Linked DNA regions of Homo sapiens: region 2 is linked to region 1. The links come from fine-mapping of genetic effects on gene expression. A gene starts in region 1. The other region holds a variant in brackets. All regions are shown on one strand. Distances are between the middles of the regions.

Region 1 (5,375 bases):
TCAATATTTTATTAGAACCTTTCTGATGATGGTGAGCATGTGTCTGCTGTACCTGGAGGGCCTGGGGTGTGGTGTGGAGAAGTCAGAGCCTGTGTCCTGGTCTGCAGGAGAGTTTGACCCTATTCTGCCCACACCTGTCTGACTACTTTCTTCCTCAAATTTTTCCAACCTGGATCTTCTAACTTTTTCACCTTCCGTCTCCAGCCACTGTCTGCAATCTCCTCAGACACCTCTTGGTTAGCCCATGGCAGCCCCAGACCCTTGCGGGCAGAGCTGCTGGACTCATTGCTCTGCCTGGGAGGGGCCTGGGCCTGAGTAGCTCAGTGCTGCGCTGCCCTTGCCCTGCGAGCATGTACACTCGCCAGGCAGTCCCGGATGAATCACGCCCCACACCGAGTAGTTAGCCCAACTCGCAACAGAGGCCCTGTGTGCTGCTTTTGTGTGTAGTGTTTCTTTCCATTCCGTGAGTCAGAAAACACCGTCACGCAGCCATGTGATCTCCCTATCTTCTGCCAAGGAGCTATGTGCAAAGGATTGCTGGAAAACCCTCGAGGGATGAGGGAGGGCAGCCGTGACTGCCAAGAGGGAGGCTGAGCTGAGAGAACTGGAGAATGGAAGTCATCTCAGGAAAAGAGCGTTCCGAGGGGCTCTGGTGTGGTGAGACCAGAGACCCGCCCACAAAGGCAGCTGCTGGTGGGTGAAGGGCCCTACCTTGGCCACGTGTGGGTGGGATCTCTACCCCCTTGACCCCTGGAGTATAATCTGATTATTTTGTCTAATTGTAAATGGAAAGCTTGCTTATACAAAATTCCAGATCGATACAGAAAACTATAAAAAAGAAAGGACATATCTCCCACCTGCCACCACCAGATGCTGTATTAATCCAGTGAGACATTTTCCATTTGCCTTTGGGCGTGGACCTGCCAGGCTCCGGTCCATTGAACTCCATTGAGCTCCTAGCTGCAGCCCAGGTCTGTTCCTGCCCCGGTCCTGGGACTCTGTCCTTCCAAACACCACAGGGAGAGGTTCTCATCCCAACTTGGCCATTAGCTTGCTGTGTGCCCTTAGACAAATCACTCTGTCTGAGTCTTATTTGTCTCTTCAGTTAAAAATGAGATAATAGGGCTGGGCACGGTGGCTCACACCTGTAATCCCAGCACTTTGGGAGGCCAAGGCGGGCGAATCACCTGAGGTCAGGAGTTTGAGACCAGCCTGGCCAACATGGCAAAACCCCGTCTCTACTAAAAATACAAAAATTAGCCAGCCATGGTGGTGGACGCCTGTAATCCCAGCTACTTGGGAGGCGGAGGTGTGAGAATTGCTTGAACCCGGGAGGTGGAGGTTGCAGTGAGCCAAGATGGTGCCACTGCATTCCAGCCTGGGCGACAGAGTGAAACTGTTGCAAATAAAATAAAATAAAATAATAAAAAAATGAGATAATAATTGGGCAGACTTGTTGAGAAGGTGGAAGGCATGGGGAGATATGAAAATAACTGCAACATCACAAAAATCTCTTCAATGTATGAGAAGTGCTGGCTTGATGCCCTTTTCCCTGCCTCAGCTCATTTAACCCCAAGGGTGGTGTTGAGCCCAGCTCCTCTGCTCCACCATTGACTTGTCCATGTTGGCCGAAGGCCTTCCCCAGACACCCTAGGATTGGCTTAGGGCAGGGAGGTCTCAGGCTGTGGTTCTGACTGACCACTGAGACCCCATCCCTGAACACTGGCCAAGCCCTGGGGCCGGCACTCACCTGGTTCAGAAGAACTCAAAACCCTGTTTTGTTGCCAGTTTGGAGCCAAAATAACTGTGCCCCCTCCTCCCCCATGCAGGCACTCATCCCCACCATGGCTGGAGTAATAACCAAAGCCGTTCTTGCTCAGAAGCCTTTTCTGATTTCAGAAACCTTTGTAACTTTCCCAACTTGTTGTGTTATCTTTAGATTGTAGTGATTCTTGTAAAACAAAGGGTTTGCGTACTTACCCCAAGGATAATTAATGACACTATAAGAACGTTAGTTCAGCTGTTTGCAAACCACTCCTTGTATTCATTTCAGTAACACACCTATGAATTTATATATTGGAAATCATCGCCATTCCCGCCTTCTAGAAGAGTAAAAGGGGGCTCAGGGGACAAACGTCTCTTAGTATACAATGAGTATTCTGTGAGCCTATTTCCCATGCCTGCCTCCTGGCTCTGGGAGTGCGGAGCCAGCTGCAGGCTCTGTTCCCACTGGCCCACACCCGTCTTCAGGCAGGAAGTCCCCAGGACCAGCACAGCCCCTCCCCACACAGCGGCCTTAGCAGGGAGGGGTTCAGCCCCTCCAGGCTGATCCAGGGCTCAGGGCCCAGGTGGGTCGCTGCAGCGAATCCCCTCATTGGGCTCATCATCACCCGTGCTCATAGACTGTCCCCATGTAGATTCCGCAGATGGTGAACCTTCAGCTACCAGTGTGTGCGTCCAAGACTTTTCCACAAAAACAAGACATCGCAGAAACTCTCCCCGCCCAGGTTGTGTGTCTGGGCTCCAGCCTCAGTTCCCTCAATCTGAGGTCCTGCTCCCATTGTGTGTCCCTTGAACCCTGTCCAGGAGATGGACAGAGGCTGCCTGCCTGCTCCCGTTTCCACACCCTGGCCCCAGGATGCATCCTTCTGCCTACTGGACATTAGCTGCCACTTCCACCTGCAGCAAGGAGCCACGGTCACAAACCTTAGGCCCTGGGCCCTGCCTGATGGGTGAGACCATCCTTGTTGGTGGGGTCTCAGACTTGGTACCCGTCTCTGGTCCATCCTGATTTACTTGAAGGACACAGCCATGCCTCCCTACAGGCAGCAGCCGAGCAAGGACTCTAACCCAGGTCCTTTCGTGCCAGACCCCACATTACCTTGTTCATACTGTGGCAAGGACTGTGGAGCCAGGGTCCCTCAAAGCCAGCCTTGGGGTAGAGAAGAGAGGTGAGCTATGAAGAGGTGAGACAGCAGGCAGGTCCTGTGGAAGGCAGGAGGCCTCACAGTGGGAGAAGGTCAGTGAGGGTGATGGAGAAGTGGATTTGGGGAATCAACCAGGAGGGGCCCTGTGGGGCTCTCAGACCTATGGCCACTCTGGGGCTGCCTAGAGACTGTCATAATAACCACAGTCATTATGATGATGGTAGGTAGTATTTAGTGAGCATTTACTATATGCTGAGTATTGGATTACCTGCCTTCCTGTATTACCTTATTTTATTCTCATGGTAACCTGCTGAAATAGGAGCTATTATTATCTTCTGCTTTACAGGGGAGGCCGCTGACCCTTGGGGAGGCTAAACAACCTGCCCACAGGCATTCTCTCATAAGCAGATCTGAGATGAAAGTCCAGGCTGCCTGATTCCGGGCCCCACTCTCTCTGACTTCTAGAATTATTTGCTTCTTGGAAAAAAACAAAACCACCCTGCCCAGATGGTGGGGAGTTGGGGGTGTCAGGAGTTTCAGTTTTGTAGAGGAAAGATAAGTGCATTTATGTGGTTTCCACACAGAGGCATACCTTTGATTGTAGGGTCTGGAGAGGGGCCCTTTTGGAGAAGGTCATCTTCCCTGAATGAAGACGCAGCTCTGGTTGGAGGGGCCTCTGAGAAGCAGCCAAATCAGTCCTGCTAACCCACAGGCCAGTGAGCCATGGCCAGACCACTCTCCCATTCACAGAAAGTGGGTCTGTGCCTGGGATACACGGAAGAATAAGTTCAGTACATTCAAGGCCAGGCATGGTGGCTCATGCTTGTAATCCCAGCACTTTGGCAGGCCGAGGCAGGAGGATTGCTTGGGGTATACCCGTGGGCTGCCAGCTGGTCCAAGCAATGGGTGAGAAGGTTCAAGACCAGCCTAGGCAACAAAGCAAGACCTCCAGCTCTAAAATAACAATAATAATGATAAATAAATAAATTCAATACATATGCCAGGCCTTGTTGGTTAGAGACCAATGCTTAAGAGCCTGCGGAAGAACAGCTTACGACCACTCTGTGGTTTTTCCTCCCCATTTGGCTGCCTGAGCGGTGCAGTGGGAGCTGCAGATCAGGCTTCAGTAGGCAACAGCTGAATAGGCGAGAGGGTATCTGCACACCTTCTGGCCAGTCTTGACCTCGGGTTGGGTAGCAGCGAGCCTTGGGGTTTTCATGAACAGGTGACTGGGCCAGGTGCAGTGACTCATGCCTGTAATCCCAGCACTTTGGTTGGCTGAGGTGAGAGGATCGCTTGAGGTCAGGAGTTTTGAGACCAACCTGGGCAACATAGCGAGACGCCATCTGTATTTAAAGAAAAAGAGAGAGAGAGAGAGAGAGAGAGAGAACAGGTGGCTTAAGATAGGCAGGTGAGGAGCGGGGCCCTCAGTGTGAGCCAGTTATTGTCCATGCAGCCCTTTGGCCAGCCCTAGCTCTGCTGCAGTGTCTGGATCCAAGGGCTTCCCTCATGTGCTGGCTCAGCCTGGCTCCTCTGCTCCTTCACAGGTCCGCGGATCAAAACTCTTTTTTCGTATTTCCTTGAACAAACCATAGGTTGTAAAACTGCTGCAAACAATTATTGTGAAGCCAGAGGGAGAAAATATTAAGATATGTGGTGCTTTAACTTTTTGACTGGACTCACAGTAAGAAATGTATTTTATATTGTAATCAAGTGTGTACACACACACACACACACATATACACTCAGATACACACAACTAAAACAGAAATTTTCTTGAAACAATTATTAATTGTACTATATGCAATACACTTCATGTTTTGTATTTCATTCAATTTCATTTAAATAAAATGTGATTTGAGATGCTAGTTAGTGGGTCATGAAATCAATTTAGAGACTCTCAAACTACATTAAAAAACACCAGGTTAGCTGAAGATGCTGATAGCTAGAATAACGAACAGACTGAATAGTTCATCTGTCTTGACTCCCCCTGGGACCTGAATTTTCTGAGGTCAGAGGCTGAGCCCTCCCTGTAAGTCCTAATGTGGGATCCTGCACCCATTAACCTTCTGAAAATACAGACACTATGGCAAACACCAGGACTCCAAGCAGAAAGGGGGTCCAGGGGAGAAGGCAGGAGGTGCCTGTCTTCAGAGTTAACATTTCGTTGGGATTTATTTAGCCATAAAATGACTTCCAGGGAACAGGAAACAGGTTGAATGAGGCTAGAGAACAAGATGAGGACATTAGAGGCAAAACACTCCCCAAAGCTGTTCTGAGCATCCTGAGCATTGCTGTGTGATCAGCACAAAGAGGAAGGAATAGCGAATGGTTAAGAGGATAGACTCAGGAGCCAGCTGGCCTTGGGTGGAACCTGCCTTGCTATGCCTCAATTTCCTTATTCCTATAAAATGGCGATGTAGTACTATTCAATTCTTAAGAGTTGTT
Region 2 (5,375 bases), 26 kb before region 1:
AGTGATGCGACCTTCTCCAGCTGCCAGGTTCAAACGATTCTCCTGCCTCAGCCTCCTGAGTAACTGGAATTACAGGTGCACGCCACCATGCCCAGATTTTTGTATTTTTAGTAGAGATGGGGTTTCACCATGTTAACCAGGCTGATCTTGAACTCCTGACCTCAAATGATCTGCCCATCTTGGCTTCTCAGAGTGCTGGGATTACAGGCGTGAGTCACCGCACCCAGCCTGCATCTCTAATATTTTTAAGAGACTATTTTCTCAGTATTAACACTTAGGTGAAAAAACAGAACGAGAAGGGGGCTAGGCACAGTGGCTTATGCTTGTAATCCCAGCGCTTTAGGAGGCCAAGGTGGGCAGATCATGTGAGCTCAGGAGTTCAAGACTAGCCTGGGCAACATGGTGAAACCCCATCTCTTCAAAAAAAAAAATACAAAAATTAGCTGGGCATGGTGGTGGCACATGCCTGTAGTCCCAGCTACTCTGGAGGCTGAGGTGGGAGAATTGCTTGAACCCGGGAGGTGGAGATTGCAGTGAGCCAAGATTGTGCCACTGCACTCCAGCCTGGGCAAGAGTGAGACCCTGTCAAAAAAAAACAACAACAAAAGAGGTTGTAGGGGTACTATTCTCATTTTATATTTTCTGAAAATCCCTGCTCAGCCTGCATGTGTGACTTACTTCACATTTAGAGTAAGTGGAATCCAACCTGATGGCTGGGGTGGCTTACTGGACTTTGTATCGCCATTGTTTGGCCTCTCCGTGAGCGTGGAGTCTTTTTTAGGATTGGGTGCGGGCCTTGGGAGCGCCCCCACGTGCAAGCTCCTGGTTACTCTGCATGTAAACCCACGCTTACGTCTCTTCCTTCCTTCCCACTACAGAGTTTTATGGACGAGGAGCCCCCTACAATGCCTTGACGGGGAAGGACTCCACTAGAGGGGTAGCCAAGATGTCCTTGGATCCTGCAGACCTCACCCATGACACTGTGAGCCAGATTATAAGCCTTTGTAAAATCCTCTACCTCCTTGTCCATGCCTTTTTCTCTTTTTCTTTTTCTTTTCGTGTGTGTGTGTGTGTGTGTGTGTGTGTGTGTGTGTGTGTGTGTGTGTGTATCTGGGCAAGAGCAAGCCTTCCTAATTAGCTTATTTACCCTTCGGTCCACTTGGTATGGTGGCCAGGCATTTTCTTGAAATAGATTATCCTACCATGTCATCTCGACTCAGAAACCTTCCATGGCTGTCTGTTGCCTAGAGTCAAGTCCAAACTCTTATGAACTTGTGATCCAACTCAGTGATCATCACAATTTGGCCCCAACCTGCTTTGGCAACCTAATGCTCCTTATGGTCTGTACCTGCCACCCCATCCCCTCAGCCCCTTACAGCCTTGCTATTAGTCTCTGAGACCCATTCCCCAGGCCATGCTTGGTAGCTTTGTGGATGAACTGGGTTGGGAAGAAAGGTCTCCCTCTATGCTTATATTTCTGTGAAGGAGAAGATAGCATTAAAACATTTTTTAGGCCAGGAGTGGTGGATCATGCCTGTAATCCCAGCACTTTGGAAGGCAAAGGCAGGTGGATCACCTGAGGTCAGGAGTTTGAGACTAGCCAGGCCAGCATGGAGAAACCCCGTCTCTACTAAAAATACAAAAATTAGCTGAGTGTGGTGGTGCACACCTGTAATCCCAGCTACTTGGGAGGTTGAGGCAGGAGAATCGCTCGAATCCAGGGGGCGGAGGTTACAGTGAGTTGAGATCATGCCACTGTGCTCCAGCCTGGGCAACAGAGTGAGACTCCATCTCAAAAAAAAAAAAATTTGTTTTTTAAACCTATTCAAGGTCTAAATAATTCCAACAGTAAGGCTGGAATTTCCTCTAACTGTGCTCAACATCAAACTGACATTGAGATAAATTGAGATGAGCCAAACTCATAACAAAATGAATGTAACAATATTACAAAAATGAATGAAGAACTTAAGAAAGGGGAAGGTGCCAAATGTATAATGGGAGGAGTGTAGAGAGAGGGATAATGGGAGCAGTGTAGAGAGAGGGAGGATTAATCGGGGGGAGGAAGGGGATGCAGATGCAATAGGGCATGCCCTGCCCCACCCCAGCATGCTCTCTGGAGTCTTTCATCCCTTCCATCAGTCAAACCACAAAGTGTGATGAAGCATTGCTCCCCGTATGTTATACCCTCCCACCCCCACGCCCCCCCCACAGCAGTGTCTCTTAAGCCATTTGTCCATTATTTGGTTTGTTGAGATATCTTTTCTCTTGCATTAGGGATGTGGGAGGCAAGGCAGGGATGGAGAAAGGCCAGTGCCAAACACTATCCACTTAACCCCATCTCCTGTCTTTCTTGGGCTTTTCTCCCCAAGACGGGTCTCACGGCCAAGGAACTGGAGGCCCTGGATGAGGTCTTCACCAAAGTGTACAAAGCCAAATACCCCATCGTCGGCTACACTGCCCGGAGAATTCTCAATGAGGATGGCAGCCCTAACCTGGACTTCAAGCCTGAAGACCAGCCCCATTTTGACATCAAGGA[T/C]GAGTTCTGATGTTCCCCCTGCAGGAGCAGGTTCTTGGGAGCGTGAGGCAGGAAGACACTAGGTGCTGAATCTCCTGCAAAACTGGCTGCCTGGAGGCCCTGAGCCACCCAGATCTGAATAAAACAGATGCTTACCCTGGAAGAGCAAATGCCTCCTGTTGTCCTTGGTCAGGGGTTCTGTCTACCTGGGGACCCCTGTCTGCACACCAGGGATCAATAAGAGCCAAAGTGGGACACCTCCTAGATGTCAGTATCAGCTGGCTGGGCAGTGGAATTTTGAGCGACCTTTACTTTATACTTTTCTGTGCTTGACAGATTTTCAGCCATGACCATGTTCACTTTATAATCAAAACAAAAATAAAGGTCCCATTTTTACAAAAGGAGAATTCTTCCCCAGAGGCCATTTCCTTGGAGCCCACATAAGCGGGTGGGCTGTGTTGTTCTTCCATAGTCCTGCGGGGCCGGATGGTGGGGCATTTAGGCAATGGGCAGGAAAAGAGAGTGGTGAGGTGGGAGGGTGGGCGATGGGAAGGGAGCCAGGAAACCCGGCTGGAGTGAGGGTGGGAACTGGCTTCAGTGCACGTGCAGCTGGAGATTGGTGAGGAGGGCCGGGGTCAGTGTGGGCAGAGCCTGGTGGAGGTCATTCCAAGAACGGGAGGCATATTCCTTATGCTGGACTGAGGTCAGATTTTAAGAGGAAGCCCCTTTTGTTAGAGTGGGCAGATTTTTCCCTCTGGGGACATTGGGTGATGTCTGGCAACATTTTTTTTTTTTTAATTTTTGTCTGTCATGACTGCAGGATGCTACTGGCATCTCGAGGCCAGGGATGCTGGTCAACATTCTGTAATGCACCTGACAAAGCATCATCCGGTCCGAAATTTCACCCATACTGAGGCTGATAAATACTGTGTTAGATGGATCCTGGACATTTTACAGTGGAGATGAATTTCCTTGACATAAAACTTGTATTTTATTAAAATAAATAGCAACTGCCCCCAAGAGAGAATTTTCACATTAAGCAGAATAATCTGTTAAGGTGATTGTTCAAAATGTTGACTCCTGGGCCCCACCTCCTAGCGCTTAGGATTCAGTATTTCTAGAACATGGCCTGGAACAGTGCTTGTAGTGAGCTGCTCAGGAAGTTGTGATACAAACAGGCCCAAACACACTTTGAGACACCACCTTATTGCCTTATCAGTCATCGCAAGGACAACTCAGATCCTTTTTGAGGGCAAGGTTTGACCTTTAATGTGTTCCAGGGCTGGGGAGTCTAATGGTAAACCTCTGGGTTGCACTGAAGAAGATGGGAGCTTGATGGCCATCCAAGAGTAACGCGCTTGGATCTTATCAGATAGGACTTTTTGGCCTAGAATTCTAGAAGTTGCTTATGCAGCCAAGGTTGTCTGTAGCGGACATTTTGCCCCAAAACAGGATGTACAAATAAATACAAATGGTGTCCAAGTCCTTGGGAATAGTCGAGAGATGACTTCTTTTACTTATGTGCCCACCACTCCCTACATCACTATGTAATGTGGGGTGGGAGGGTGGGTAGAATTCCACTCCTTAGACACAGATTTCTGCAGTGAATCAAGGTCTCCAAATTCAGGCTCTGGGAACTTCCCAACACCACTGTTTGCCCCACTCCTCACCTTTGCCCCCATGAAGGCAGTTTTCCCTCATGGTCTCAGGCTCACCACCCCTCCCAGGATTACCCTGCCCAGTTCCCTGAGTGCACATCAAAAGCTGCCAGCCAGCCAGGACAGTGTGCAAGAAATCGGCAGCCTGTGTGGGCTCTAGAAAGGGTGGGTGCAACCCCAGGGGAGGAGGCACAGGCCGGCCTGAGGATTCTGCATCATTGAGGTCTGCAGGGCCTAAAAGTCTCGCACAGACCCTGGGAGGCCTGAAGTCCCTGCGTCATGTGCCCCCTGCTCCTATGTCTATTTATAATGTTTTTCTTTTTCTCTGAAGGCTCATATCCTCCTTTTAAGACTCAGCCTAGGTGCACCTGTACCAGGAAGCCTTCCCCCTCCTGTGTGATCCCCTTAGCCTAGACTCACCTGCTTTGCTGTGATTGCCTGTTTGTGAGCCTGTCTCCTTCAAACAGGGGCATCTTATGGGCCCAGCACACTCTCCTACAGTGACCAAACTTTCTTTCTTTTTTTTTTTTTTTCACTTTTCATTATCTTATCTCATTGGAAATTATACATAATGTAAACGGTAGAACGTGATTCACTGATTTTTTTTTTCCTTAGTTTAATACAAGTGTGCTTCACTTTAAGCAAAATATACTAAATGATTTCTGAGACAGGAGTTTCCTTACTTTTTCAGTTAAAAAGATTTGCTTACAGAATTTCTTTAAATAACAAGGCTTCTTTGGCCGGTTTAGAGTATTCAGATCACAGAAATTGATTTCACACACAACTTCTTTGAAATACCTACATTGCATAAAATGAGGCACACAGATACATGTGCCCATTCCATCGAGATTGCCTCATTATTTTGTGTTATTTTATATTTTTCATTTTGTCATTATTAACACTTTAGCATACCAGGTTCATTCACTCTCTATTTTAGTTGAGATGAGTTAGTGTTTCTAAGGAGTGTTTCGTAATCTCTTGTCCCAAACTAGGCTAGTTTGGGAATCCAGTGAGAGTGACTGAAAACTGAAATTCAAGTCCTGAACATCCTTCCAGAACACAGCCTATCACCCTGTGGAGATAACACACAAACTATCTCAGAGGACCCCCACCTGTGGAAGTGAAAATCATGTGAGAGTCATAGTTCAAAAGAAAAAAGTGCTGGGCACCGTGGCTCATGCCTGTAATCTCAGCACTTTGGG

Alleles and levels. Positions count from the first base shown, and alleles are read on the strand shown. Sizes are in standard deviations (SD) of each study's normalised expression.
As copies of T replace C in region 2, the expression in tibial artery of the gene that starts at base 3,083 in region 1 goes up (moderate effect, 0.40 SD a copy in GTEx).

The links. PIP is the estimated chance that this variant, and not a neighbour inherited with it, causes the effect. A credible set is the group of variants that fine-mapping cannot tell apart.
Region 2: its variant is the best candidate, but not a certain one, in a credible set for the expression of LINC02771 in tibial artery (GTEx, PIP 0.65).

The regions. Positions count from the first base shown.
Region 1 is chr1:212,469,796-212,475,170 of GRCh38, forward strand. LINC02771 (long intergenic non-protein coding RNA 2771) reads right to left here and starts at 3,083. Exons shown (of 3, transcript NR_183725.1): 1 at 2,882-3,083. RefSeq lists enhancers at 1,787-2,287, 2,288-2,788.
Region 2 is chr1:212,443,461-212,448,835 of GRCh38, forward strand. It overlaps NENF (neudesin neurotrophic factor), which reads left to right. Exons shown (of 4, transcript NM_013349.5): 3 at 879-982; 4 at 2,370-2,919. The coding sequence ends at 2,546. Among named protein-coding and RNA genes, the nearest start is that of NENF, 13 kb to the left of the region's middle. The variant T/C (reference allele first, on the strand shown) is at 2,537.